Regions from separate parts of the Homo sapiens genome. Here regions 2 and 3 are each linked to region 1. The links come from fine-mapping of genetic effects on gene expression. A gene starts in region 1. Each other region holds a variant in brackets. All regions are shown on one strand. Distances are from middle to middle. Region 1 holds the start of PDCD6IP-DT (PDCD6IP divergent transcript). Region 2 overlaps PDCD6IP (programmed cell death 6 interacting protein). Region 3 has its middle 95 kb from the start of PDCD6IP.

Region 1 (8,300 bases):
CTTCACCTTTTCTCTCTTAGACTGTTCCGCTCAGCACCAAAAGGACTTTCTTTCTTGCACTGCAGGAACTTCCCTTACATCAAATCCTTATACTGTTTACTCTCATTTATTGTAAAAATACTACAGTCTTCTGAATCTGACTTCTGTAAGCCTCTTTTCTCCTTAATAACAAAGACTCCTCCAAAAATCATAAGTGCTTACTTTCAGGCTATCGTCTCCATGTGGACTTGAAACACACTATTTTGAAACTCAAAGCTGCCTTCAGCAGGGTTCTCTCCATTCGAAGAGGCAACTATTTCCACTGGTTCAATCAGTGGGGTTAATGATAGGCCCAGAACCAGGAATTTTCAAGAAGGAAAGTCCACTGACTTAATATTCTCCAAATGTACTCGTTATGCTGAGAATACACACTAAGAACATATGGCATTTCATTACATAAATGAAAAACATCATCATAAGCAAGTTTGGAAGCAGTGAAACACACCCTTGGAAGGCATTATAAATGCTCCCTAATATCTGATTCTCCCTTCCCAGTCCCATTGCAGTTTGGTGGAGCCATGTGAAAGGTTCTAGCTAGTGAAATGCAAGTGGAAGTAGGAGGGCTGAGGTAGTGACAAGCTGCTGCATGATGCTACAGATTTCCTCTTCTGCAGTGAAAGTGGAATCTCATGTTGGGATGGCAGAGTTACAAGATCAAAGTGGTCTGGATTGCTCAGACACTGGTTGGAGGACAACTCTAAGCCTGTTCCATATTAGACTTTGTGTGAGCAAAGAACAAATGTTTATTAGTATCTTTGAGTTTAAAATTGAAACTGAGATTTTGAAATTGTTTATTGTCAGAACATAAGCTAGCCAATCTTGACTAATATACCATAATTCTTTGCTTATTGGCCTATTGCCTAATTAGCTGGAGTGCTTGTTGTTGGTGAAAGTGTGTTATTTTGGAAGTAGAGAATATATTTTATATATATATATTTTTTTTTTTTACAAGGGTGAAACTTATTTAATGATATTTATTGAATGCCTGCTATACCAAGTGCTAGAGATGCATCAGTATACAAAACACACAATTTTTGCCCTCATGGAGCTTACATTTTAGTGGGGAAGTCAGATAAAAATTATATCAACAAACAAAATACTTGCAAGTTAGGGTAAGTGTTATGAAGGAACTAATGGCTGCGCTAGAGGTTAACAAGGGAGGGAATCTACTTTAGATAGTATGATGATGAGGAGAGGAGACCTTTCAACTGAGATATGAAGAAAGGGAGAAAACATTCTAGGTCACATGAGGCAAGAAAGATCTTGGTGTGTTTGAGAAACTAAAAAGACCATTGTGACTCAGTGGTAACAAATGAGGAACAAGAGGCAAAATATGAAGTTGCAGAGAAAGATCATCATGTTGTGGCAGGGAGTTTGGTTTTCATTCCAAGCCATCAGATAGTATCACCTTAATCTTCCTTTGGTCAATGCCACAAAACTAACCACATCTATGTTAACTTTCTTTTCTCCGCCATCTGCCTCAACAAATGTCATGTCCCTCATCTTTCTGATGGCTAATCACTCCCTTTGTATCCTCCCTCCTCTGGTTACCCTTTCTCCTCTTTTCATATACTTTGCTTCTTCGTTATCTTCCCAATGGGTCAGTCCTGTCAACCAACCTACAAGACACCACCCATCCCCCACCCTCTTCCATGGGTTATCAACTGGTAATGATTCTACTAACCACTCAGATGTTCAGGCCCCAAAACCAGGACCTATCTTGACCACTCTCTTTTCTTTACTTTCCTATGCAGTTCATTGGTAAATTCTTCAGTTTTAAACTCAAAGATATTATCAGTTTGGTTCACTCTTGCTAATGTTAGCTTTCCTGATTTCGTCTTGATTTCTGAAATGGTCTCATGATTTGCCTCCTTGCCTCCATTCTTTCCTTCCTCTAATTTTTTCTTTATGCATCAGCCAAGGGTGGCTACTTATTTTAACATAGAATAGCTTAATTAAAATAAACAAAAATTTTTATAAATTGTGGTAAAATAGGCCGGGTGCAGTGGCTCACGCCTGTAATCCCAGCACTTTGGGAGGCTAAAGCGGGTGGATCACTTGAGGCCAGGAGTTCGAGACCAGCCGGGCCAACATCGCGAAATCCAGTCTCTATTAAAAATACAAAAATTAGCCAGGCATGTGGTGTGCACCTGTAGTCCCAGCTACTCAGAAGGCTGAGGCAGGAGAATAGCTTGAACCTGGGAGGTGGAGGTTGCAGTGGGCTGAGATTGTGCCACTGCACTCCAGCCTGGGTGACAGAGTGAGACTCTTTCTAAAAAAAAAAAAATTGTGGTAAAATAAACTTTTACTATAATGAAAGTAGTCTATGTGCTGCAAAAGTTACAATGAAAAAGATAGGCAAACACAAAGAAAAAAATACACATTTCCACTTCCAAAGATTACCAATACTAACACCTTAGGGTATAAGCCCACTATTTTTTTAGTTGTACATAAATACATATATGTGCATTTTTAAACCAAAATGAGATGCTGTAACATACTATTTCGTGACTTGCTCTTTTCAGTTAATGATCTTTTCCATGGCAATACAGTTCTATTTTATCCAATACTCAGTCCATCTACATTCATATTTCTTTAATGGTCCTGAAAATGCATTTTATAGACAGTCTGTTCAAACCAGGATCCAATTCAAACTGTTATGTCCCTTAAATTTCTTTTCATAAAGCAGTTGCTTTTATCATGACAAATTGTTGAAGAGATGGGCCAGTTATCCTGCAGAATGTTTCACCTTCTGGATCTGTCTAGTTACTTCCTCTGGCATCATTTAGTTTGTTCATCTATCTGTTGTATTTTTTATAAACTGTGTTAGATGCAAAGGCTTGACAGATTCAAGTTAAATATTTTTGCCTGGAATATACCATGATGATACTGTATACTACATCCCATCAAAAGACAAACTATCCGATTGAGCTACAACGTGGCCTTTAAAAAATGTAAATTATAAGTGTATATAGCTTCCTCTGCATTTATTATACAATACTAAACAAATTCTTCAACTTGGACAACAAGTTTCTGAATGATTTGATGCCTGCTTACTCATCCAACTTTATTCCATCCCATTCTATTTGTTTTTAAAGGTCTTGTCACATGTTTCGTTTCTAGTCCTGAAACATGGTTAAGTGCTTGCCTCCTAGGGCCTCTGCCGCAGGCTTTTGGTTTGGAGGCTCTCCTTTGCCACTCCACCCCTCTCCACTCTTCTCCTCTTCTGATATCAAGCATCTTCTCAAATTACAGGTGTCGTTTTTAATTTATTTAAAATTTTGTTCTTTCTACAAAACAGCAACCAGAGACACAGGTTCATTTTCAGTTAACCTACTCGGAGAAAACCTACTTTATCTTATTTAAATTAGGGTCCTCCAAGCGATCTTAACATCTCCTAAGTCCCAAGCACCCTGTTTTTTTCCTGATACTTTTTCCGTTTACCTTAAGGTCTGTGTCAACCTGACAGTAAGCTGCACGATGGCAGGGGTCTTGCCTACTAGGTTCCCTGTGCACAGCAGCCCGTCAACAGTAGTTGAATAAACATCATAGGTCACAATAACCCTGGGACTGCCTCTTGGGGAGGTAGCCGCAAACTCTCGCAGGTGGCAGTGACACCAGTACTTCTCCGGGGGGTTGTTCGAGTGGAGGAATACTCTTACGTGAAAGTGCTCAGTACACCACTGCGGCAGGAAGGAGGAAGGGAAGAATTCCAGATGGGGAGAAAGTAATATTTTGCAGCACAGTACAGGGTAAACTGGGTCCAGGTGGGCGTAGCCGCCGCGACACCTTCACGTGACCGCGGACAGCTTAAGGACCCCGCATCCAGTGCGCCTGCGCTGGAGCTCCCGGAAGTTGCCGGACCCGGAACGCAGGCGGAGCGCAAGTCTGTCAGCCAGTCAGTCCGCCAGTCCGCCAGCCCAGTACCTCTCTCTCCTCGGCCCTCGTAAGCTGTCCGCGGTCTGTTTGGCCCGAACGGCGGCGGAGGCGCTGATCATGGCGACATTCATCTCGGTGCAGCTGAAAAAGACCTCAGAGGTGGACCTGGCCAAGCCGCTGGTGAAGTTCATCCAGCAGACTTACCCAAGCGGCGGGGAAGAGCAGGCCCAGTACTGCCGCGCGGCGGAGGAGCTCAGCAAGCTGCGCCGCGCCGCAGTCGGTCGTCCGCTGGACAAGCACGAGGGCGCGCTCGAGACGCTCCTGAGGTGGGCGCGGGGCTGGGAGTGGGTAGGTTGTCTGCCAGCCGTCGCTCGCCGCTCCTCTTCCCGTCTCCCCCCTTCCTTCAATCCTGTAACCTGGGCGGAGCCGCCCCGTCCCGGCCTGACCAGGCGCGTAGGTGTGGTCTGCATTCTTTGCTGGTGAGCAGGACCCGCCCTGCAGGCCCGCTGTGACTGCCCGCTTGTCCTGCCTGCACGTCTGCTCTAGCCCTTGGTCGGCGAGGGCTCCGTGGATCAGATACCTGGGAGCAGCAGTCTGCCCTGTACTGATCTCTTTTGCCACATTTACTTAGAACTAGTCTTCACTTTTTTGGGTCTCTAACTGAAGCTTCCCCTTTCGCCCCATTTTTCCATCACTGTCTTTCTTGGGCCACATTTTGATTTCATAATAGTAGTTGCTTGAAGGCAGTGGGGGAAGTGGGGGAATTGGGACACTGGACCAAATGTCTGATCAGCTCATCACATTGTCCACATGAAATGGACCGTCTTCCTCAGTTCAAAATAATCAAATGATAGATGGAGAATTCTGAAAGTTAGGAGCTACAACTATTTGAAATAAAACTCTAGTTACATAGTTGAACCGTTCAAGGTAGGTTGTTTAAAAGCAGTTTGTTCACAAACAGATATATACACAGTAGAGTAAATTTGTTATTTTAGCAAACGCTTATTTAGCTCATGCTGATTTAATGAGGGTTCCTTTCATGATACTTAATAGTTATAAGAACATTTTTTACGATTTTATAGTTAAACATTTCTTTTGCATACCTTGTTAATCTCGTTTTCTCCGTATAGTATATTCTACTTGTTTCACAGGAGAATCACAATTGTATTCCAATCCAAGTAGCAGAAACCCAGGCTAAACTAGCTTGAGCTAAGAAAAGACTTATTCTGCCGGGCGCGGTGGCTCACGCCTGTAATCCCAGCACTTTGGGAGGCCGAGGCGGGCGGATCACGAGGTCAGGAGATCGACACCATCCTGGCTAGCACGGTGAAACCCCATCTCTACTAAAAATACAACAAATTAGCCGGGCGTGGTGGCGGGTGCCTGTAGTCCCAGCTACTCGGGAGGCTGAGGCAGGAGAATGGTGTGAACCTGGGAGACGGAGCTTGCAGTGAGCCGAGATCGCGCCACTGCACTCCAGCCTGGGCGACAGAGTGAGACTCCATCTCAAAAAAAAAAAAAAAAAAAAAAAAAAGTAAGACTTATTCTGCTAACTGAAAAGTCTAGGGATATTCCTTCCTTAGCTTTAGGTATCACTGGAGATCGTCTTGCCTCCGTGATGCTTCCCTCGAAAGCTTTGTTCATGTATTGAGAGGGATGGCTGTAGTGTAATAACAATCGTCCGCAACACTCAGTATCTTACAGAAGGGAGTGCTTTTCTCCTTAGCTCTGGTGGAAGTCCATGGGAGGCTCCTGGGTTTGTTTGCACCCATTTATGATGGTGGGAAATGGGCTAAGTTAATTGCCCTTATCTGAGTCATCCAGCCGGTTTAATTTCTCCTTACCCCATGGATCAAAGCAAGATGAGTCCGGACTGGGGAAGGGTTGGTTCTCCGAAGGAAGGGGTACTGAATAGATTGCTCAGAGGAATTAAGACCCCTTGGTGTCAAATTTTAGAGCTACAACTGTTGGGCTGCAAGGATCATTAGTCTAATAGCATAAGCATTTTTTTTAAAGTTAACCTAGAAATACTTAGCCATTCTTTAGAATTAACATAATTAAACAATTTCAAGGTAATTTTTATGTAGGCATGAATAGCATTCAGTGAGGATTTTCCATTAGTAATATTAAGAAAACATAGTTGTGGTATAATGAGCCCTGTGATAAAAATCTTGTTGAATATATCAAATTTGGTTCCAGCCCTCAGATTTGGGGTCTTCAGAAGCACTTGGTGCATGGGTTTTAAGCTAACAGACATGGGAGGTTGGTGGATAATGGTTTGGATACGGTTCTCCTGTCAACTTTAAAACTTAATTCATTTGTTCCTTCCTTTATTCTTTTTACCAGACTTAAATGTGTGAACTGTTCCTAGGTAGTGGACCTGTTGTAGATATAGTCTCTTTGAAACTAACCATGTTTCTTTAGTCACCTCTGTATAATCCCCTCCTGCCACATTAATTCAACAAATATTAAGTATTTTCACTTTTTGGGCTTCTAGAGGGGTTAGGGTAAGCTTGGAGATATTACTAAAGTTTATAATGGAGGTAGGTACAAAAGTTTTGTAGGTATATACGCTGTAAAATTAGATGTGAATCAGTTGTGTGATGTTCATTCAAATCCGGCAGAATATCTTATTTTTAATAATTATGTTTGGATAATTGTGTAAACTTAACATTAATTTTTTAACTTAATGAACTTTTTAAACTAATGAACTTTGAAAAACAGAGTTTAAACTAATTCCTAAATAATTGAAGCCAGCTTGATAAGTCCTGATATGCAGCTCCATATATTGCTCCAGTGATAGACTTGTTTTCTTATTACTAACTTGTAGGTGTTCTATTAAAATTTCCTAAAATATACATTTATGCATATTATAATAATGAGAATGAGTACTTAAAAACTCATTTGTTCTGGGTGTGGTAGCATGCACTCATAATTCCAGCTGAGGCAGAAGGATCACTAGAGCCCACGAGTTGGAGACCAGCCTGAACTACATACTGAGACGCTGTCTCAAAACAAAACAAAACAACAACAACAAAAAACCCTTTTATATGATACTTCTTCCTTTATAAAGTGGCTTTTACTAAAAATTGATTAGACCTTGGTAAATGGTGACCTAGGGTGATCAAATGGGAACCCTGCTGGTTTTTTATTTTTATTTTGTATTTTATTTGAAGCTCCAGATATACCATTTACCAGCATTGTGTAATTTCTTTTGTGGTGATCAGTTTCTTTAGAGAGAAAGCTTCTAGTCTTCCATGAAAAAGTCTGCTTATCAGCTTTCTAAATTTTATCCTGGGGAATGGAGGTTGGGGATCTTAACAATCATGTATGCAGTCTATCAGGTACATCTATTTTTAGTATGACACCTGCATTAGGGTTAGGTTCATTTCTGTGTGGTAGATCCCAAATTATCTGAGTTAAGATTTTATTTTGTAAAAAGTTGGCAGGTAGGTAGTTCTGGTAGCCCAGGGCTGGTGTAGTGTTTCTGTGGAGTTAATTGGGGCTCAGATTCCTTTCAGCTTTCTGCTGTTTGAAACCTAGAATATTGTTCTCAGGTCCAGGTTGCAATCATATCCAAGTTCCAGGTAGTAGGATGGAGAAAGGCACGGGGCTCGCCCTTTAGGGTGTTTCCTGGCAACTGTTCCACAACACCCTGCCTATATGTTACCGGCCATTTTGTGTGTCCTTCTGATAGGATGCTAGGAAAAGGAATTTTCATTATGAGCAGCTGTATACTCAGCTAAAGGGACACAGTTTTGTTAATAAGGAATAGGATAGACTGATAATGATGTAGTCAATTAGCACTCCCTACCCCACTTAGCAGTGCTTGATCTCCACCTTAGTTATATTTGATATCTCTGACATTTTTTTCTTTTTTCTTTTTTTTTTTTTTGAGGTGGAGTTTTGCTCTTGTTACCCAGGCTGGAGTGCAGTGGCATGATCTCGGCTCACCACAACCTCCGCCTCTCGGGTTCAAACGATTCTCCTGCCTCAGCCTCCTGAGTAGCTGGGATTTACAGGCATGAACCACTCTGCCTGGCTAATTTTGTATTTTTGGTAGAGACGGGCTTTCTCCATGTTGGTCAGGCTGGTCTGGAACTCCTGACCTCGGGTGATCCACCCGCCTCGGCCTCCCAAAGTGCTGGGATTACAGGCGTGAGCCACTGTGCCCGGCCAATCTCTGACGTTTTTTTGAGAGTGAACCTACCTTCAGAGTAGAGGATCTGGGAGCCTGAAGTTTTCTTTGAAGGATTTTCAACCATACCTTCTCGTTCCAGCCTCACATTGAACTACCTTCAGAGGTACCTCATGTTTCTTAATTCAGATCCTTTTCTGGCTTCTCTGGCATGATTTGGCTTCTGCTTTGGCTCCCTTCCCTC
Region 2 (8,000 bases), 27 kb after region 1:
CAATGCTTATTTTCTGTTTGTTTTTTAATAGGAGCTATCCTAAGTGGATGTGAGGTGTGTAGATTTTTTTTTTTTAATCAGAGTTGGGTTTTAGCCCAGCTAACCTGCTAGCCCTTTGAGAAATGTATTTGCATGAGGGAGTAAAGCATAAGGCCAGCTAGGAGGTAATTGCATTGACTTAGATTTGTGGTAATGAGGAATTGGTTTGATTGTGGTGGGACAATGTGATTTTGAGAGGTGACAGAAAAATGGAAATAATTTATTCAAATTTAAGAAACTGAGAGAAATGACATGAAAATGACTTTTACATTTGAATTTGATTGTAATAGAAATGTGGAAGTAAAGGGAAGGAGAGAAAGAATAACTTACTGTTCTTCAGCGTTTTGGGTGATGGGAATATTGTTGTGGAAATAAATGCCTGTAAGGGCAGCTTGAAATATGGGAGCATATGACAGCAAGAAAACAGGTCTGGAAACTTGTTTTTGTGAGAGTCAGCGGGATGAGAGAGGTCATAGTATTTCTCTTTGAAACATTTGTTTTCTTTAGAAAAAATAATCTGATGAATTTTTCCTTCTCAATTTTTTACAGCTCTTGCAAGCTTAGGATATGAAAAGAGCTGTGTGTTGTTCAATTGTGCAGCCTTAGCTAGCCAAATTGCAGCAGAACAGAACCTGGATAATGATGAAGGATTGAAAATCGCTGCTAAACATTACCAGGTATGCTGAAAAGTAGTTACTACAATAATGGTCAACACTAAATTGGATTAAGTGGAAAATAATTTGCATTTAGGTTTATAGATACTTCTTACGCAACAGATGTTTTCTAAAACGAATGCACTTTTAAAATGAATTTATTCTTACTGTTAAAGCCCTTAGATAAACTGTCTATAGACCAGGTCTGTTATTCCTCATTGTTTTATACCGAGCACCTAGCACAGTGCCTGGCACATAATAGAGGCTCAATAATTGTTGGTTGAAGAAATTATGAAATGTCTGAGATTTCATCTCAGGCATTTAGGGTAAATCCATTTTAAATAAATTACCTAATTAAAAAAAATTTGTACATTATTTTCATATGTTTTCTTAGAGTGAGACACACTTGAAATTTCACTGTTGTTACAAAAATAAAGACAAGAAATTGGCAAGAAAATAAAATTTTAACTTTGAGACTTGTGGAGAGGTCATATTTAAATATGGTCAGACACATAATGTTCATAAGTTGCCTAATCTGTTTTACGTACTGATCATTTACTAATATGGCATGTTATTTTGTGGCAGTTTATTTTATTTTATTTATTTATTTATTTTGAGACGGAGTCTTGTTCTGTTGCCCAGGCTGGAGTGCAGTGGCACAATCTCGGCTCACTGCAAGCTCCGCCTCCTGGGTTCACGCCATTCTCCTGTCTCAGCCTCCTGAATAGCTAGGACTATAGGCATCCGCCACCTCGCCTGGCTAATTTTTTTTGTATTTTTAGTAGAGATGGGGTTTCACTGTGTTAGCCAGGATGGTCTTGATCTCCTGACATCATGATCCACCCACCTCGGCCTCCCAAAGTGCTGGGATTACAGATGTGAGCCACCATGCCCGGCCAGCAGTTGTTTATTATTTATTCAGCTTTTTTTTGTTTTGGTTAAAAGAACAGTAAATGATTACTGTTAAATAATATATATATAATCATGTTGTCATTTTATATTACTTTCTAATTTACAAAGTGTTTTCATGTACATTATTTGACTCTCAGATAAACCTTGTGATGTATGTCATATAATGTCATTCCGATTTTACATACGAGGAGGCTAAAGGTCCGAAGTCTTAATAAAGCAGTCTATTTGGGTTTCAATAGTTCTGATTCCAAATTTCATGTAATTCCAAATGTCCTTCCACTGTTTCACTCCCAAACCTCCCATGAAATTTGCTTGTCTCAGAGGTAGTCTGCTTTTTCCCGTTGTTTATGTTTAGGGAAGAGGTGAGTGATGCTGTTCTGAGAAAGTAAAAGGAAAATATACCGTAAGCAAACAACACGCTCCAAATTGTGGCTTGCCTTACAGTTTTGAATGGGCATAGATGACAAACATAATGCATACGCTATTTCTTTTTGAGGCTATACATGGCAAATATTTTAAAATGTGAAAACGAGCTGGGCGTGGTGGCTCACGCCTGTAATCCCAGCACTGTGGGAGGCTGTGGTGTGCGGATCACGAGGTCAGGAGTTCCAGACCAGCCTGGCCAACATGGTGAAACCCTGTCTGTACTAAAAATAGAAAAATTAGCTGGGTGTGATGGTGGGCGCCTGTAGTCTGAGCTACTCGGGAGGCTGAGGCAGGAGAATCTCTTGAACCGAGGAGGCGGAGGTTGCAGAGAGCTGAGGTTGTGCCATTGCACTCTAGTCTGGGCGACAAGAGCAAGACTCTGTCTCAAAATAAATAAAATAAAATACAGTAGTGAAAACGAAGTAAAATTTTATTTAGCTTTTGGTTAACTGTAACTCAGTTAGTTAGTATATGAGATTTTAGAAAGGTCATTCTGAATTATGAAAGAAACATTCCATTCTGTGAGGGTTCACAGCAGGGCACCTGGTATCATGGAAAGATAACTGGTGGTATTAGACCTAGGTCCTTGTCTAGGCTGCTTGCCACCCAGAAGCTTTGTGCCGTTGGGCAAGTTCTTTAACCTCTCTAGTACCTCCAGTTCCTTATCTGTAAATGAGAGACTCAGACACTTTGCTGTTGTAGACTTTGATTCACTAGTTTACTGAACAAGTTCAGTTGTTCATTCCTAGCAGATACTCTAGTGTTATAATACTTACTGACTGCAGAAACATGCTGTTCATTTTAATACATTTGACTTTGAGTTTTCTCTGTGTTGTCTATTTATCTAACTCATGACACCTTTTTTTTTTTTTCTTTTTTGAGATGGAGTCTCGCTCTGTTGCCCAGGCAGGAGTACAATGGCGTGATCTTGGCTCACTGCAACCTCCGCCTCCTGGGTTCAAGTGATTCTCCTGCCTCAGCCTCCCGAGCAGCTGGGATTACAAGTGTGTGCCATCATGCCCAGCTAATTTTTGTATTTTTAGTAGAGACGGGGTTTCATCATGTTGGCCAGGCTGGTCTTGAACTCCTGACCTCAGGTAATCTGCCCACCTCAGCCTCCCAAAGTGCCGGGATTAACAGGCGTGAGCCACCGCACCCGGCCAACTCATGACACCTTTTAATCCCAGACTGATTTATTTCTTTTTCTTAGTATAATTTGTTTCATGAAAGCAAAGTTATTTTAGTATTAACAAAATATAATTGAGATGAAAAATCTGATGGGGAACATTTCACTAGTGAGCTCTGAAGGCCAGACAGAAATCACTGGCAATGGGTAGTAATGCTGTTCCTCAGAGGACTAGGTGTATGTACTACCTGGGGTGTCCCCTAACTACGGCATGTTTAATTATTTGAAAGATGAATTTGTTTGGGACCAAAGCAAGAGCATTGCAGTACTAAAAATATTTTAATGTTTATCCCCGCCTCTATTCTCATGTTAATTTTGAGGAAGTATATCTAAAAATAGTTTAATCAGATTGTTCCATTAGTTTACTTTGTTTTTCCTTGTAATTTACTTTTAATCTTTGTTAAATCTCTTGTTACGCTATAGAGTTTTAGAAAGATAACCTTATTGTCTGTAGGTCAGATGTTTTAGATTGGTTTTGC[A/G]TAATATAAAAATTTAAATATATTAACTGTTCACTGAGTTAACATTTGAAATGACTTTTATATGTAACAGTAGGAAATTAAGTCTTGCTGAGTTCCTATAAAGAAATTCTTTTTCCCCCCTTTAGTTTGCTAGTGGTGCCTTTTTACATATTAAAGAGACGGTTTTATCTGCCTTAAGTCGAGAGCCGACCGTGGACATATCTCCAGATACTGTTGGGACCCTCAGTCTTATTATGCTGGCACAGGCTCAAGAAGTATTTTTTTTAAAAGCCACAAGAGGTAACTCCAATTTATCTTTTTGTTGCATGTGAAAAAAAGTGATAAGGCTTTTAAATTAAGAAAGTGATTAGAATATAATATGTTCAATGTCGAGCTGTCCTTCTTGAACTTGATACATGAATTATGGAAAATTTTCAGCTATCCTTTTCTGAATTTGTGGCACAAATTTACATTTAAGAATGTAGGCTGTGTTTGAAGTCATGAAATAGATCTTTAGTAATTGTCTTTAAACACTCCATTCTGGAATAGTATTTATGTATGTTTTTAACATGTCAGACATTTATTCGCAAATATTTATTGGATACTTACTCTGTGCCAGTCACTGTTCTAGTTTCTAGATAAACGGAGTTAGAAAACAACTTAGGTTTTGGCGACGGGAGAGATGATAAGCAAGAATTAAGTAGACAGGATAATTTCATAAATAATTGCTATAAGATTTCAGAAATAATTGCTATAAAAAATAAGAGAATTATATGATAGTGGCTGGTGGTATGGTTATGGGATAGGGATATAGGGGAAGCTGGGCTAATTTTAGATTCATTAGTCAAGAAGGCTTTCTTTCAGGAGGTCCTCTTTAAAGTAGACCTAAATGACAAGAAGGAGTCATCCAGGCACAGTCCCTAGCCCTGGGAATGAGGGAATAAGAATAATTCTTATAAGGCATATAAGTTAGCATGAGAGATTGAAAATGGGCTGAATATGTAATATGGGCTGAAACTGAAAATAAGAGATAAGTCATCATGTGGAAGAAATAGGAATTGGAATACTTTTTTCTTTTAAAATAACAGCTTATATTGAGATAGAATTTATATACACTCAAGTTCACCCTTTCTAAGTATACAACATAAGATTTTTAGTATATTCATAGAGTTTTGATTACCACTATCTTATTTTAGAACATTACCATCATCCCAGAAAGAAGCCATGTACCCATTAGCAGTCACTCCTCACTCCCCTTTCCCCCACTGCTGGCAACCACTAATCTATTTTGTCTGTTCTAAATTTTGTGCAGAAAATGTGATTTCATCAAGAAAGATGTTTTCAGATGCGTGTACAAACTTGTGACCTCAGTGTTTATACTGAGACATGTCAGATTAGCTCATATTTATTTTAATTATAATGGTCATATTGTATTCCAGATAAAATGAAAGATGCCATCATAGCTAAATTGGCTAATCAGGCTGCAGATTATTTTGGTGATGCTTTCAAACAGTGTCAATACAAAGATACTCTCCCCAAGGTCAGTTATTGTTTTTATAAACACTTGCTTACTTTGCATGTGAAATATTTAGACTTTTTTGTGTATAAGAAGCAAGTTGAAACTTATAAAGAAATTTGAAGTTTTAATAGAGTTATCTGAAGTATATAGTAGAAATAGTTTTTTTTTTTTTTTAATTTAAGATGCATGAACAATTCTTTTATGTTTAGGGGATGCCTTTGTCTTTACCTTTTACTAAACTTGTTTTTCCAAGCTAGAACTCTTTCTGGAAAATGTTGACCATCTGTTTTCAATACTTTTATCAAATCAAGGCATTGTGTAGTTCTGAATCATTGGTGATTTGGTACAAGCATGTATACTTGAGCATGTTGATGATTCACACTTTTAATTATTGTCCTGTTTTCTTAAAGATGAGCCTTAAAGCGCAAAAACAGACATAAAGAAAAAAGGAAAAGAAAACTTAACAAATTCATCTGATACTTTGATTAGAATTCAGTTTTGCCAACAGGGATAAAAAATTGGGCTGCTAATGGACAGCTAAGGAAAGCAACCATCTTAAACCACATATCACAGGAAGTATAATGTTTTAATGTAAACCTTTCTGAAGTGACAATTGTAAAGACTATTCAGTGATGATCATTTGTTAATGACAAAGCAAATCACTAGTAAATTTGGAATGATTAATAAAGAAAACTTAAAGATTGAGTGAAATATATGTTTCAACTACTTCCTTCAGAAATGTTCAAGGAATTAGTTTCATCATATGGTATCTGTTACATGATTTTTTTTGGTAGGGGAATTTATTGATTTGTAAGTCATATTCAGGAATCTTTGTACATTAAAAAATTGCAGACAACTTGGGGGTGAAGTAAAAATGCACATAAGTGCATTAACAGTACTTATTACTCAGAAAATGATCAATAAGGAATTAATGTGACGATTCCTGGGGATTTAAGATACACCAAGAGCCTAGTAGAAATTTGCCCAGGATTCTTGGGTATTAACAGCCTTCCTCTTAAAAAGAGACTTGGGATCTCCTCTCATGTTTTTTTCATCTGAAAGACCTCATGTTCAGCTGCACAGTGTTCCGTTACATCCTGTTGGGCCATTAGTTCAGTCCTGTCATGGAGAGAAGAAAGTCACCTACAAAGACTTGGAAGCTACCTCTGCAGCATTCCTGGTATTCCTTGAAAATCTCCTGTTTCAGAACCAAGTTGCTCCAGCCTTACCTTGAGAACTGGCATGAGTGTAGTTTGAAATTTAGATGTCTTTTATTTTTTCCTTTTTACTAATAAAGCTCATAAGGTATTTTCATATTCTAGTTATAAAACTGAAAAGTCTGCAAGTAGTGATCCAGGAAGGTAGGAAATTATTCCCTGGGAGACAGGAAAGCACACAAGGTAGTAATTCAGTTTTTGATTCTCTTACATTTTTTGTTTAGATAGTGATTGTCTAGCCTAATTCCTTGGATTTTTTTAATATCATATACTTCCTAAAAGCAGTGAGGTTACAGGTTAGATTTTGACGTTTTGGAAGAGCCACCACTAGTATAATTGCTTTCCTGCTTTATGTCTTTGGATCTTTTGAAATTAATTTTGACTGGAATTATTTTCAAAACAAATAGGCAAAATAACACTTTATCATTATCATTGGTCATATACTTAGTGCATTTGTCTATGATATGTTTTTGAGTATATGACACTGAAATATTAGTGTATCTATGATACTAAATCATTTTTATATGGCTAAAATCATCTTCAGTAAGAACTCTCTTAGGATATGAATTTAAGTGAAAATTTACTGTCTTTTTTTTAAAACATGATGAAACAGTAATCTATAGAGCAATTTCATTAGTATATGTGAGTAATGATGGTTTAGTTAACTCTACAGGCTGGGTAAGGGCTCATAAGAAAGCTTCTAAAGCTCTGTGCTTTGTGTTCCTCTGTGAATGTCCATTCTACTTCTCTTTCTAATAATGCATGCTTTTCTTTTTGTAAACAAAATGTTGACTTCATGGATCAATTAAAGAGAATTGTAAAAACCTAAATTGGCTTCAGTTAACAGTTAAAAAAAACCCCTTCAATTGGAAGAAAAAAAATTTAATTCATAGATTTCAATCCACACAAAATCATGTCGTCTTCTCTGTTTACACCTAATGACTAACCTTAATCTCTAAACCATTAATGGGGTGATTCTAATTTCTGTCTTCTTTTCCTTTTTCTTCCTGCATCCCATGTTGTCTGTGGTGGTTTGTGTGGTTGGACTCTCCCCTGGTCAGTATTTTTATTTCCAGGAGGTGTTCCCTGTCTTGGCTGCAAAGCACTGTATCATGCAGGCCAATGCTGAGTACCATCAGTCTATCCTGGCAAAACAGCAGAAGAAATTTGGAGAAGAAATTGCAAGGTTACAGGTGAGTCTCTTGGTAATAAATATTTAAGTAACTAACTTGGATCTCTCTTTTTTTTCCTAGTGAGATTTCCAAGTTTGCCCATAAAAACCTTTCCCGTTCATCACCCCTATCAGCAGGGACAAGTGATTGTTTTTATCTTTAGACTTTACTGCATGTTTTTTTGAGGTCTCATATTTTATCTAAAAAATAGATGCAAAATTTGCATTCAATTCTCTTTTTTATCCATGTTTATTTTAATGTAAAAATAATTCTAAATTAATTGCCATCTCCAGATTGTTTTTGTCTTTAGACTTTACTGCATGGTTTTTTGAGGTCTCATATTTTATCTGAAAAATTCATGCAGAATTTGCATTCAGTTCTCTTTTTTGGTCATGTTTATTTTAGTGTAAAAATAATT
Region 3 (11,176 bases), 95 kb after region 1:
AAAAGAGAGTGAATGCCACAGAGAACCGTGGATGTGTGGATAAGAGGGAGTTAGTGGGGCTTACTGGAGGATTTGGTCATGTGTTTGGTGATTTGGGGAAGAGTACAATGAAGCTGGGCTCTGTTCTGGATTGGTGCTGTCAGAAAGTGGGGCAATTTGGTGAGTGAGCATCTTACACTAGTACTAGTGTACTAATACTGGGGTTAGAGGTATCACTGGAAAAGAAGCAGCAGCATCTCATGTTAGCCTAGGGAGAGGGAGGTTTGGTCACTCTTGTGATTGCACAGGGTCTTTGTTTTTACCTCTGTTCAGGTCTGATCATGGAGCAGCCATCTGCTCCTGAAGTTCTTTCTGAAGTCTTTCTGAAGTTCTCAACTGCTACTGATATTCTCTGAAAGATTTTGTGTTCATCAGGGGACAACACAGTCTAGCAGGTAGAGATGAGGCCAGCTACCAGCTGAAAACTCTCAAGGCTGCTTCCCCATCACCCCTCCACCTCTGGGCACTGAAGGATGAGTAGGAGTTTCCCAGATCGGAAGGTCAAAAAGGGATGGGCATATGAGGCAAGAAGGCATATCTGGAGTAGGCCTGGGGAGGTACCGAGTATCCCAGTAGGCTGAGGGACACCAGAAGTAAGGACGTGGGTGAGAACCAGGGGGTGTAAGCCCAAGGAGTCAGACAGGGCCCTATGGTGGGGGCCTCTGGGGCTTGCTAAGGAGCTTAGATGGAATCCTCTGGCCATATTAATCTGAGTGCTCAACTCAGAGCGGGTGATCAGCAGATGTTTATTGAATTGGAATATCGGTTAATGAATTGGACCTCTTTTTCCTTGCAAACCCCACCCTCATGCACCCAATATAGTGCCATCAAAGACAAGAAGAAAAGCTACATGAGGAAGGGATATCCTTCTAGGAGTCCAGATGTCCTGCCCTTACAGTAGCTTTTGGAATACTATAGTCACAGAGCTGACAGGGTTCTTAGGGTACATTTGGTCTGCCTCTCTGCTTTTACAAAAGGGCACCTGAAGCAAGATGCGACAAAGTGCTTGCTTAATGCTTCACAGCAGATTGTGAAAGAATGAGGACTTGAACTCACATCCCTTGCTTCCTTGTTTCTGCCCTTTTCACTACAGCAACACTTGTCCTTGTCATCTATAACTTTCCCAGATTAGTTCTTCTATAACCCTAGTGAACCCTGGGCCTCCACATGGCTCAGTCTCTGCAGAGTTCTCCATATACAAAAACAAAACAAAATTCAGCAGCCAGAAGTACTTGAGAAGGAATTCCATTTGCTGCATGACTCTGTTGAACTTCGAGGGGATAAGAGTCACCAGCCACAGTTCCACTTTTCAAGGACCCTTGCCTCTACTCCTCAGCTCCTCCGGATGGTCTCTTGTGCCAGCACCCAAGCTGCTCCTGTAACCACAATCCAGAGCTGATTTTTCTCTTGCTTCTTCCTTCCTCATCTAGTTCTTTATTAAAGAGATTGACCTGGCCTCTCTGCGCATATCCTCCCTACCTTCTTCCTGTCTCTCAGGACTCATCTCCCCTCTTTTATCTGCCAGTGTTGTGTCTGGCAGTATGTTACAGAAACCTCATTACAGTGGCTAAAATAAGTAAGAGATTTATAATCTCTCCCCAGACAAGAAGTCCATAGGCAGATGCTCCACAGCTGTGCCAGAAGCTCTTCCTGGTTTTCTGCTCTGCCAGTTAGGGTGGATGGTTTGCTTCATCTCACAGATGGCTGCTGCACCTTTGGGCGTCATGCTTACATTCCAGGTTAGAAGAGGGGGAATGGCCAAAAGCAAAAGATATGTGCCTGCTGAATGGTCTCTTTACATCAGAAAAACAATTGATTTTCTGGAAGCCCCAGCCGGTAGAATTCTCCCTACACTCATTGGCCAGAGACGGTCACATGGCCATTGCTAGCTACAAGGGAGCCTTGGAAATAAGGCCCTGAATAGATAAGGGAAGAATGGATATTGTGTAAGAAGCTAGCAATGTCTGCCATACTCATCTTATAACTTTTGCATCACAAAAATCTGGGAGCTGACTTGGCAAAAACAGGGTTTCTTTCCATGTTGGGTTGGGGAATAGGAGTTTATTAAGCAAAGTTATTTACAGATGAATAAATATTAGCCTAAATGAGTATGATTGATTCTAGAGCACATTGATTTTGTTTTCATGTTGCAAATTTTTAGCCTTTAAAAATAGAAATTTAAATGGGCATTTAGGACATATTGCCTATAGGAAGCTAAACACTTTTTCTTAATGCATTATATTCAAGATTAGGGCTTTGCTCTGAGATTCCCAATTCCAGGAAGAAAAGTTTCTAAATACATTCTACTTGGAAAAATTATAGTTGTTTTCTCTTGTGCACTAAAATAAAATCAGTACAGAGAAAAAAACCCCACCAAGCTTTTGGTACTACAATTTCAATTCTCATCTTTGTCAATGTGCACATAGGCATTTAGTGTTATTATAATGAATGCATATCAGTTGATTGTAATCTGTTCTTTTCCATTTAATATTATTTTATAGCATGATTTTATAAACATACAGTTCATATAGTTATTTTTAGTAACTATATATTTTGAGATATCATAATTGGCTTAGTCATGCTCCTTTGACCAGTGGTAATTTCAAAAATATTTAACAACTGATATTCATATTGATCAATCAGAACACTCTAGGCTATAGAAACAGAGTATGTCCTGGAGGTCTCTGTAGGACCTGACATTAATTCATTTGTTGCTGGATTGTAGGGTAGATTGTTGGTGGTTGGGAGGTTGGGTAGGGAATATTTACTAACTGATATGGAAGAAATGTAACTATTTTCTTAATTAAAATTCTTTTTTTGTAGAGGTGGGAGTCTTGCTAGGTTGCTCAAGCTGGTCTCAAACTCCTGCCTCAAGCGATCTTCCTGCCACAATTCATTTTCATCTATTTATCTATTTTATAGAGACAGGGTCTCACCATGTTGTCCAGGCTGGTCTCAAACTCCTGGGCTCAAGCCATCCTCCCGCCTTGACCTCCCAAAGTGCTGGAACAGGTTCGAGCCCCTGTGCCTGGCCCCTGCAACAATTTAATAACCGGTTTTATAAGTTAGTTTTGGCTGTGTAACAAACCATTCTAAAACAGAGTGACTTAAAAGAAACAATCCATTTAGCCCATAATTCTGTGGGTTTGTAATTTTTAAAAATTAATATAGTTTTTAAAATTTCAATAGCTTTTGGGGTGTAAGTGGTTTTTTGTTACACAGATGAATTACATAGCGGTGAAGTCTGAGATTTTAGTGCACCCTTCGCCTGAGTAGTGAACATTGTACCCAATGTGTAGTTTATTTATCCCTCACTGTGCCCCACCCTCTCTCTTCTGAGTCTCCAAAGTCCATTATCTCACTCTGTATGTCTTCACATACTCATAGCTTAGTTCCCACTTATAAGTGAGAGCGTATGGTATTTGGTTTTCCATTCTTGAGTTACTTCACTGAAAATAATGGCCTCCTCTCCTTTGTAGCCAGTGGGCCAGGAAAGAAGAAAAAATAATGGTCCCCAGCTCTATCCAAGTTGCTGCAAAAGACATTATTTTGTGCTTTTTTATAGCTGAGTAGTTTTCCATGGTGTGTATGTATATCACATTTTCTTTATCATTGTTCGATGGTCACTTACACTGATTGATTTCTTTGCGACTGTGAGTTGGCTGCAATAAACATACACATGCAAGTGTCTTTTTGACATAATGACTTCTTTTCCTTTGCATAGATACCCAGTAGTGGGATTGCTAGATTGAATGGTAGTTCTACTTTTAGTTATTTAAGGAATCTTCATACTGTTTTGCATACAGGTTTTACTAATTTACATTCTCACCAGCAGTATGTGAGTGTTCCCTTTTTACCACACCCATACCAACGTCTATTGTTTTTTTTTTTCATTTTAGTAATGGCCATTCTTGCAGGAGTAAGGTGGTATCTCTCTGTGGTTTTAATTTGCATTTCCCTGATCTTCCTTTGAGAAACGCCTATTCATGTCATTTGCCCACTTTTCGATGGGATTATTCATTTTTTTCTTGCTGATTTGTTTGAGTTCCTAGTAGATTCTTGGTATTAGTCCTTTGTCGAGTGCATAGTTTGCAAATATTTTCTCCCATTCTGTGGGTTGTCTGTTTACTCTGATTATTCCTTTTGCTGTACAGAGGCTTTTTAGTTTAATTAGGTGCCATTTATTTAGTTTTGTTTTAGTTGCATTTGCTTTTAGGGTCCTAGTCATTAATTTTTTGCCTAGGCCAATGCCCAGAAGAGTTTTTCCTAGGTTATCTTCTGGAATTTTTGTGGTTTCAGGTCTTTGATTTAAATAGTTCTTTGCTCCATCTTGAGTTGATTTTTGGGTAAGGTGAGAGATAGGCATCCAGTTTCATCTTCTACATGTGGCTGGCCCGTTTTCCCAGCACCATTTATTAATTTATTTAATTTACCATTTTATTATAAAAGATATTGCAAAGGATACAGATGAAGAGAAGCATAGGATGAAGTATAGGGGAAGGGATTTGGAGCTTCCATGCTCTCCTTGGGTGGGCCCTGCTCCAGGAACTTCCTTATGTTCGCTCTCCAGAAGCTCACTGAACCCTCTTGAGTCCTCTTGAGTTTTTATGGAAGCTTCATTACATCAGTATTCCTTTGCCCCAGGGGATAGTGTGCGACCCTCTCATGGGAGAGTCTAAACATCCACAATCAGAAAGGTGGAGAACATTAGAGTCCTACCTTGGGGCAGGTGAAAGGAGGGCGGGAGAAGGTCAGAGGCCTAACACACCCAGCATTATAACAAAAGACTGCAACAAGGGTTATGGGAGTTATGAGCCAGAACTGTGGATGAAAATCAATATATATCATAACACCACAGGCCACTCCTGATTTTTAACCACGGATCCTTTACATCTATCTATCTATCTATTATCTATCTATCTATCTATCTATCTATCTATCTATCTCTGTATACACAATCATTAATAACTAGTTCAGTCTATCATATTGTATGAATGTCTCCCAGGATGAGGCCACTCACATTTGTAGGTTTCCTCACAATCTTTTCAGGTTCCAAAAGCAGGAGTGGCCTTGGTAAATATACAGCTTCACCCTTACAGGTATCTGGAATAATGAGCTAAGAGACAATGTCATCTTTTGCTCTGAGACTCTTGGGTCGTTAATGTAATATTGAATTTTCCTCAATTAATAACCCACTTATTTATTTCTTTACTCTTAGCTACTATTTCTCTTTCTTTCCATTAATACCCAAACTTTTTCATCTTTGGAAGGGGCATTAGAATCACCAGTGCTATTTATTAAACAGAGTGTCCTTTCCCCAATTTATGATTTTGTGTGCTTTGTCAAAGATCAGTTGGTTGTAAAGTATTTGGCTTTATTTCTGGGTTCTCGATTCTGTTCCACTGGCCTATGTGTCTACTTTTTGTACCAGTACCATGCTCTTTTGGTGACTACAGCCTTGTAGTATAATTTGAATTCCAGTAATGTGATGCCTTCAGATTTGTTCTTCATGCTTATGATTTCTTTGGCTACTTGGGCTCTTTTTTGGTTTTATATGATTTTTAGGATTTTTTTTTCTAATTCTGTGAAAAACGATGTTGGTATTTTGATAGGAATTGCATTGAATCTGTAGATTGCTTTGGGCAGTATGATCATTTTCATGGTATTGATTCTTCTAATCCGTGAGCATGGGGTGTGTTTTCATTTGTTTGTGCCATCCATGATTTATTTTAGCAGTATTTTGTTGTTCTCCTTGTAGAGATATTTCACCTCTTTGGTTAAGTATATTCCTAGGTATTTTGTTTTATTTTGCAGCTGTTGTAAAAGGGATTGAGTTCTTGATTTCATTCTCAACTTGTTTGTTGTTGGTGTATAGCAGTGCTACTGATTTGTGCGCACTGATTTTATAACCTGAGACTTTACTGAATTCATCTATCAAATCTGGGAGTCTTTTGGCGGGGTCCTTAGGGTTTTCTAGGTATATGACCATATCACTGGGGAAGAGTGATAGTCTGACTTCCTCTCTTGCAATTTGGATGTCCTTTATTTCTTTCTCTTGTTTAATTGCTCTGGCTAAGACTTTCAGTATATGTTGAATAGAAGTGGTGAAAGTGGGCATCCTTGTCTTGTCCCAGTTGTTGGGGTATGCTTTCAAAATTTCCCCATTCAGTATGATGTTGGCTGTGGGTTTGTCATATATGACTTTTACTATTTTGAGGTAAGTCCCTTCTATGCCTAGTTTGTTGAGGGTTTTTT[T/A]AAAAAAATCATAATGGGATGTTGGATTTTATTGAATACTTTTCTGTATTTATTGAGGTGATTATTTGGTTTTTGTTTTTAATTCTGTTTATGTGATGTATCACATTTATTGACTTGCATGTGTTAAACTATCCCTGCATCCCTGGGGTGAAACTGTGGGTTGGCAATTTGTGCTGGCATCAGCTAGGTGATTCTTATGGCCTTGACTAGCATCAATCATGTGTCTGTGGTCTGCTGCTGATCAGTTAGGCAATCTGCTTCTGGATCTTGCAAGGTCAATTGGAGTGATGGGGATAACTCGCCACAGGTATTTCATCCACCAGAAGGCCAGCTTAGGCTTTTCTTATGGTAGGACAGAGTTCCAAGAAAACAAGCAAAAACATGCAAGGATCCCCGAGGCCTGTGCTCGAAACTGGCAAAAATGTCTCTTCTGCCATACTTCATTGGCCAAAGCTAGTCCCAGGGTCAGACCCAAACGACAGACACAGATTCTGCTTCTGGATGGAAGGATGTGCAAAGTCACATTGAAAAGAGGTGTTGATATAGGGAGGAGAATAATTTGGGCTATTTTTGCAAAAAAATCTGCCATGCTGTCGCATACCAGGGTGGCTGGCTGACTATTGGCTCTGTTGCAAATTAAGCATTTATAATTTGCATTTTTCGACATTATGTATAGCAGTTTCATGAACATCATATTCTTCTTGAAGACTGCCATTCCTGGCATTAGAAAAATACTTACTAATGGAACAGGTTTAGAAGACCTTTAGTCATTCAGGAACCATTTATTCAGCACCCCTCTGCACTAACTGAAGAGACAGCATAAGCAGCAGATATATTTGTTTGGAGTCTAGAAGGGAAGATACACAGCAGTGAACAGCACAATGTGGAATGTGGTTTCTGTTTTGGTCATAGTGTGTGTGAAGGGGTTTGGGAGCAAAGGGAGGGACTACCCAGAGGGACGGGTGTGGGTAAGGAAAGTGTAGTTTAGTGTGTGTGTGTGTGTGTGTGTGTGTGTGTGTGTGTCTGTGTCTTGTGTAAAGCAAGGCTTCCAGTACTAATGGCAAAGTTTAGTTTTGAAAAATGAGTTAGTCAAGGAATGTGGTGAGCAGTGAATTTCAGGAACCACAAGGTATTTCATCCCAGATAATGAGGTTAGAGAGCAAGCCACAGTGAGATGGCAGTGAAAAGCAGGGCAGGGTCCCAAATTCCTTCAGCCTGTTCTTGTTGGAGGCAATGCAGGGTCACTGACAGGTACACATTTCATTGTGTAGGGTTGGTGCTGAAGACAGGGGCCCCATCCAGTGCAGGCTGTTTGACTCCTTGCAGTAAGTACTTTTCTAATGCCAAGAATGGTAAAGTCATCTGGTTCCGGGGCAAGAACCTGGAACCAGAGAAGGGATTTCTTTTCTTACTGAACACAGCTTGGTTATCTGTGAAGTCACACTAGAAGAAATAAACTTGGTCTTACCTCACATTTTTCACTAAAATAAGTTCCAGGTAGATCAAAGATTTGGGCATTTAAAAAGTAAAGTCATAAAATATTAGTAGAAAATAGAATTATTTTAATCTCAAAATGGGCAAGACTTTTCTAAGAACTATACAAACCCAGATATCATAGTAAATGAGATTGATGCATTTGACTACATAAAACAAAAATGGAAATTAAAAAAAACACCTGAGTTGCAAAAAACACCATATGGAAAGTAAAAAAACCCCAACAAATTAGGAAAAAATATTTGTAATGTGGTGGCCTTGCTATCAGTTATTTAGTTTTCCAAACATTATTTTGTTGAAAAAAAAAAACCATTTCTTACTGACTTAAAGTGTAACCCTGACCATATGTGATGTGTTTATCTATTTATGCAGACTCACATGGGCCTCTTTGTGGGCTTTACATTCTGTTCCTTTCATGTATTTATTCTTTCATGTGTCCTGCCCTATTATTTTAATTACTATAATATGGTAACATATCATAATGTCTCAAATTGCTTTTTAAAATGAGATGTTTGTTGAAAAGCTTTCTTTGCCCATGTAAAGGATTTTTCTATTTAAGAATATGGTATACCTTCTTATTAGTACAGGTCTTTTTTTTATACATCCTTTAGGGGTAATTTAAACTTTTCTTCACACAGATTTTGCACATCTTAAGTTTATTTCTATGTATTTTATCATTTTTGGTTATTACAAATGAGATGTTTTCCTCTATGTTACCTTCTAACTGGCTATTAAGCTCTCCATATTAATTTTCTATCCCTCTAACCTACAAAATGTTTTATTGTTTACAATAGATTTTCATCTTATTCTCTTGGACTTTTATTGGTTAATAATCATATCAGTAACAAGTACTCCTATCTTTGTCTTCACTTTTAATTTTTTTTGTACTTTATATTTCCATCTATTGTTGACTTCATTGGATAGAATTTCCAGAATTATGTTAAATAATAAGGGCAATGGTGGACATTCTTCTCTTTTTCTTGACTTTAATGAGAGTGCGTCTTGTGTTTTCCCATTAAATATGAGGCTGGTTTAAAGACTGAGATACATATATCTATCACATCAACAAAGCATCTGTCATTAGCAGTGTCTGCTACAACCAACTGCTTACGGTAGCTAAGTATCTGCTTTTTTTTCTATGTGGAACATAATAATTCCTGCCCCAAGGGGAGTTCCATTTAGGTCCTGCCTCTGACCAAAGGCCAGTTCTGCCCATGAAGTCCAAATAGGCTTCCTTTGGTTTATTATTATTATTATTATTATTTTAGAGACAGGGTCTTGGTCTGTCACCTAGGTCAGAGTGCAGTGGTGTGATCATGGCTCACTGGAGCCTCATACTCCTGGGCTCCAGTGATCCTCCTGCCTCAGCCTCCCAAGTAGTTAGGACTACAGGCACACCACCATGCCTGGCTAATTTTTACATTTTTTTTTTGTACAGACAGGGTCTCACTGTGTTGTACAGGCTGGTCTCGAACTCTTGGCCTCAAGCAATCCTCCTGCCTTGGCCTTCCAAAACTCTAAGATTATAGGTGTGAGCCACTGTCTTGGTCTGGTGGTCTTTAAACTAAAAGAAAAGTTATTTAGTCACAACACAGCTGACATACAGTCACTCAGTGGACACAGGATAATCACAACAGAAACTCCCATGCTCAAAAGGGAAAATGGGAAATGCTGTAGACGTTGGTCCATGGCAGAGATTACAGTGAGCTCTAATGGCAAAGATTCCCTTTTCTGGCTGTAGAACACATTTCATGGTGGGGCTACTTGGATCTCCTGTTTCTGTTCTCTGGGAAAAATGCCCTGTTCATTATCTACTGGTGTCCCTGCCTCTGCCCAAGGGAACTTTCTTCCTTGTCTTTTATTGCTCATGGCCATAAAAATACTGCACTATCAGTCAACTTAGGTTTTCAGCCACAGACAGAAAGTACCTCTCTTAGCAAAATTATTTTCCCTTCCATCTCTGTTTCTGATGGGCTGGCTCTAGACTGAGGTCATCTGTCTTGTAGAGTTGCATGAAAGAAAACAAAAAAGCAGCTAATGCCCACCAAAACTAAGATTTTCTCCTAATGCTTCAGCCTCCTTTGGCAGGTTGTCTTCAAGATACCACCTGTGAGGGTTTAACTCACCCATGAGCTTTGTATGGAGTAAGAGTCACCAGATTATCAGCCTGTGGTACTGTATTTCATGTAAGATGTTAGTAATTGTTAGACACATCTTACTCAAAAATGTTAACATATAAAAAAAAGGCCTATGACAATTGTCAGATGCTCTTAGCTTTAGGATGCAGATCACTTTCAGAGATGTAAGAATGTGCAAAAATGTGCAGCTTAGACAAGTACCCATGTCTACGTCTTTGCCGTCTGCTGTCTCCCTAATTGTACTGGATAATATCACTTTTTAGGCTTTGTAACTTGAAGCTTCCTACCTGTGCATACCAAATTCTGTTTACATTAAGGTTCATTGTTGTTCTGCTCTCTTCAATGTTCAGTTTCCACTTGTGGTCCAAGATGGCTGCTCCAGCACCAGGAGCTGTGCCACTTTCCCACCAGCAGGAAGGAGGGAAGGGACTAAAATGGACATTCTCTCCTCTTTTAAGTATATGTCCAGGAAGTTGTGCATGCCATTTCTGCCTATATCCCATTGTCTAGAAGTTAGTTACATGGTTACACTTAGCTAGGAGAATACCATTTTTATTCTAGGCAGCCAAGTGTCCACATAGTATTCAGGTACTTAATTACTATGCAAGGAAAGGATGCATATTGGAAACACCTAACAGTTTCTACAGGTCTCTGAAATAGTCCTATTTTTATTAAATGAAATTGTCCTCAAGAAGATATATAGTTTTGTTAGATGCTTTTTGAACATCTCTGGAGGTGGTTAAACTATTTTTTGAATTATTTTAATAGATTACTTAATATTGAACCATCTTTGCTTTCCTGGAATAAACTCCACTTGGCCAGGTAGTATTAATTTTTAAATTTGTTTCTGGATTCTGTTTGCTAATATTTAAGAGTTTTTGCAATGATATTTATAAGGAGGATTGGCTCATTTTTGTTTCTTTGTTTTTGGTGCATCCATGCTCTGCTCTGCTCTGTCTGTACAGCTGTAATTCTTCTAGGCATGAAAGGGGTGCGCCTCTCACTGGAGCTAAGGCCTGTTATAATCTTGAGTTTGCACAGTGTCTAGGATGTGGGGATGGCACCTTTTAGTCTCTGTGGCCTCTCCATCCTGTGGTGTCCAGGAGCCCTTTCTTAGGACCTGTGTGGAATCTGTCACTTTCAGCCTTGTGTTATAGGCTTCTATGTCTGTCTTCTATTCTCTGCTGGCTCAAGCCTCCTGTGACCAGTCACTCCTTCCTCATACACAGAGTGAGCACTCTTTCACTACC

The links. PIP is the estimated chance that this variant, and not a neighbour inherited with it, causes the effect.
Region 2: its variant is fine-mapped to the expression of PDCD6IP-DT in subcutaneous fat (GTEx, PIP above 0.99). The same link has a PIP of 0.9 or more in left ventricle and stomach.
Region 3: its variant is fine-mapped to the expression of PDCD6IP-DT in breast (GTEx, PIP above 0.99). The same link has a PIP of 0.9 or more in skin and whole blood.

What each region holds. Positions count from the first base shown.
Region 1 is chr3:33,794,694-33,802,993 of GRCh38, forward strand. PDCD6IP-DT (PDCD6IP divergent transcript) reads right to left here and starts at 3,826. Exons shown (of 2, transcript NR_183731.1): 1 at 3,702-3,826; 2 at 1-3,329. It overlaps PDCD6IP (programmed cell death 6 interacting protein), which reads left to right and starts at 3,937. Exons shown (of 18, transcript NM_013374.6): 1 at 3,937-4,244. The coding sequence starts at 4,036. RefSeq lists enhancers at 3,804-4,153, 4,100-4,633.
Region 2 is chr3:33,821,367-33,829,366 of GRCh38, forward strand. It overlaps PDCD6IP (programmed cell death 6 interacting protein), which reads left to right. Exons shown (of 18, transcript NM_013374.6): 4 at 589-716; 5 at 3,821-3,974; 6 at 5,114-5,214; 7 at 7,487-7,603. Among named protein-coding and RNA genes, the nearest start is that of PDCD6IP, 27 kb to the left of the region's middle. The variant A/G (reference allele first, on the strand shown) is at 3,696.
Region 3 is chr3:33,887,872-33,899,047 of GRCh38, forward strand. No RefSeq gene overlaps it. Among named protein-coding and RNA genes, the nearest start is that of PDCD6IP, 95 kb to the left of the region's middle. The variant T/A (reference allele first, on the strand shown) is at 6,295.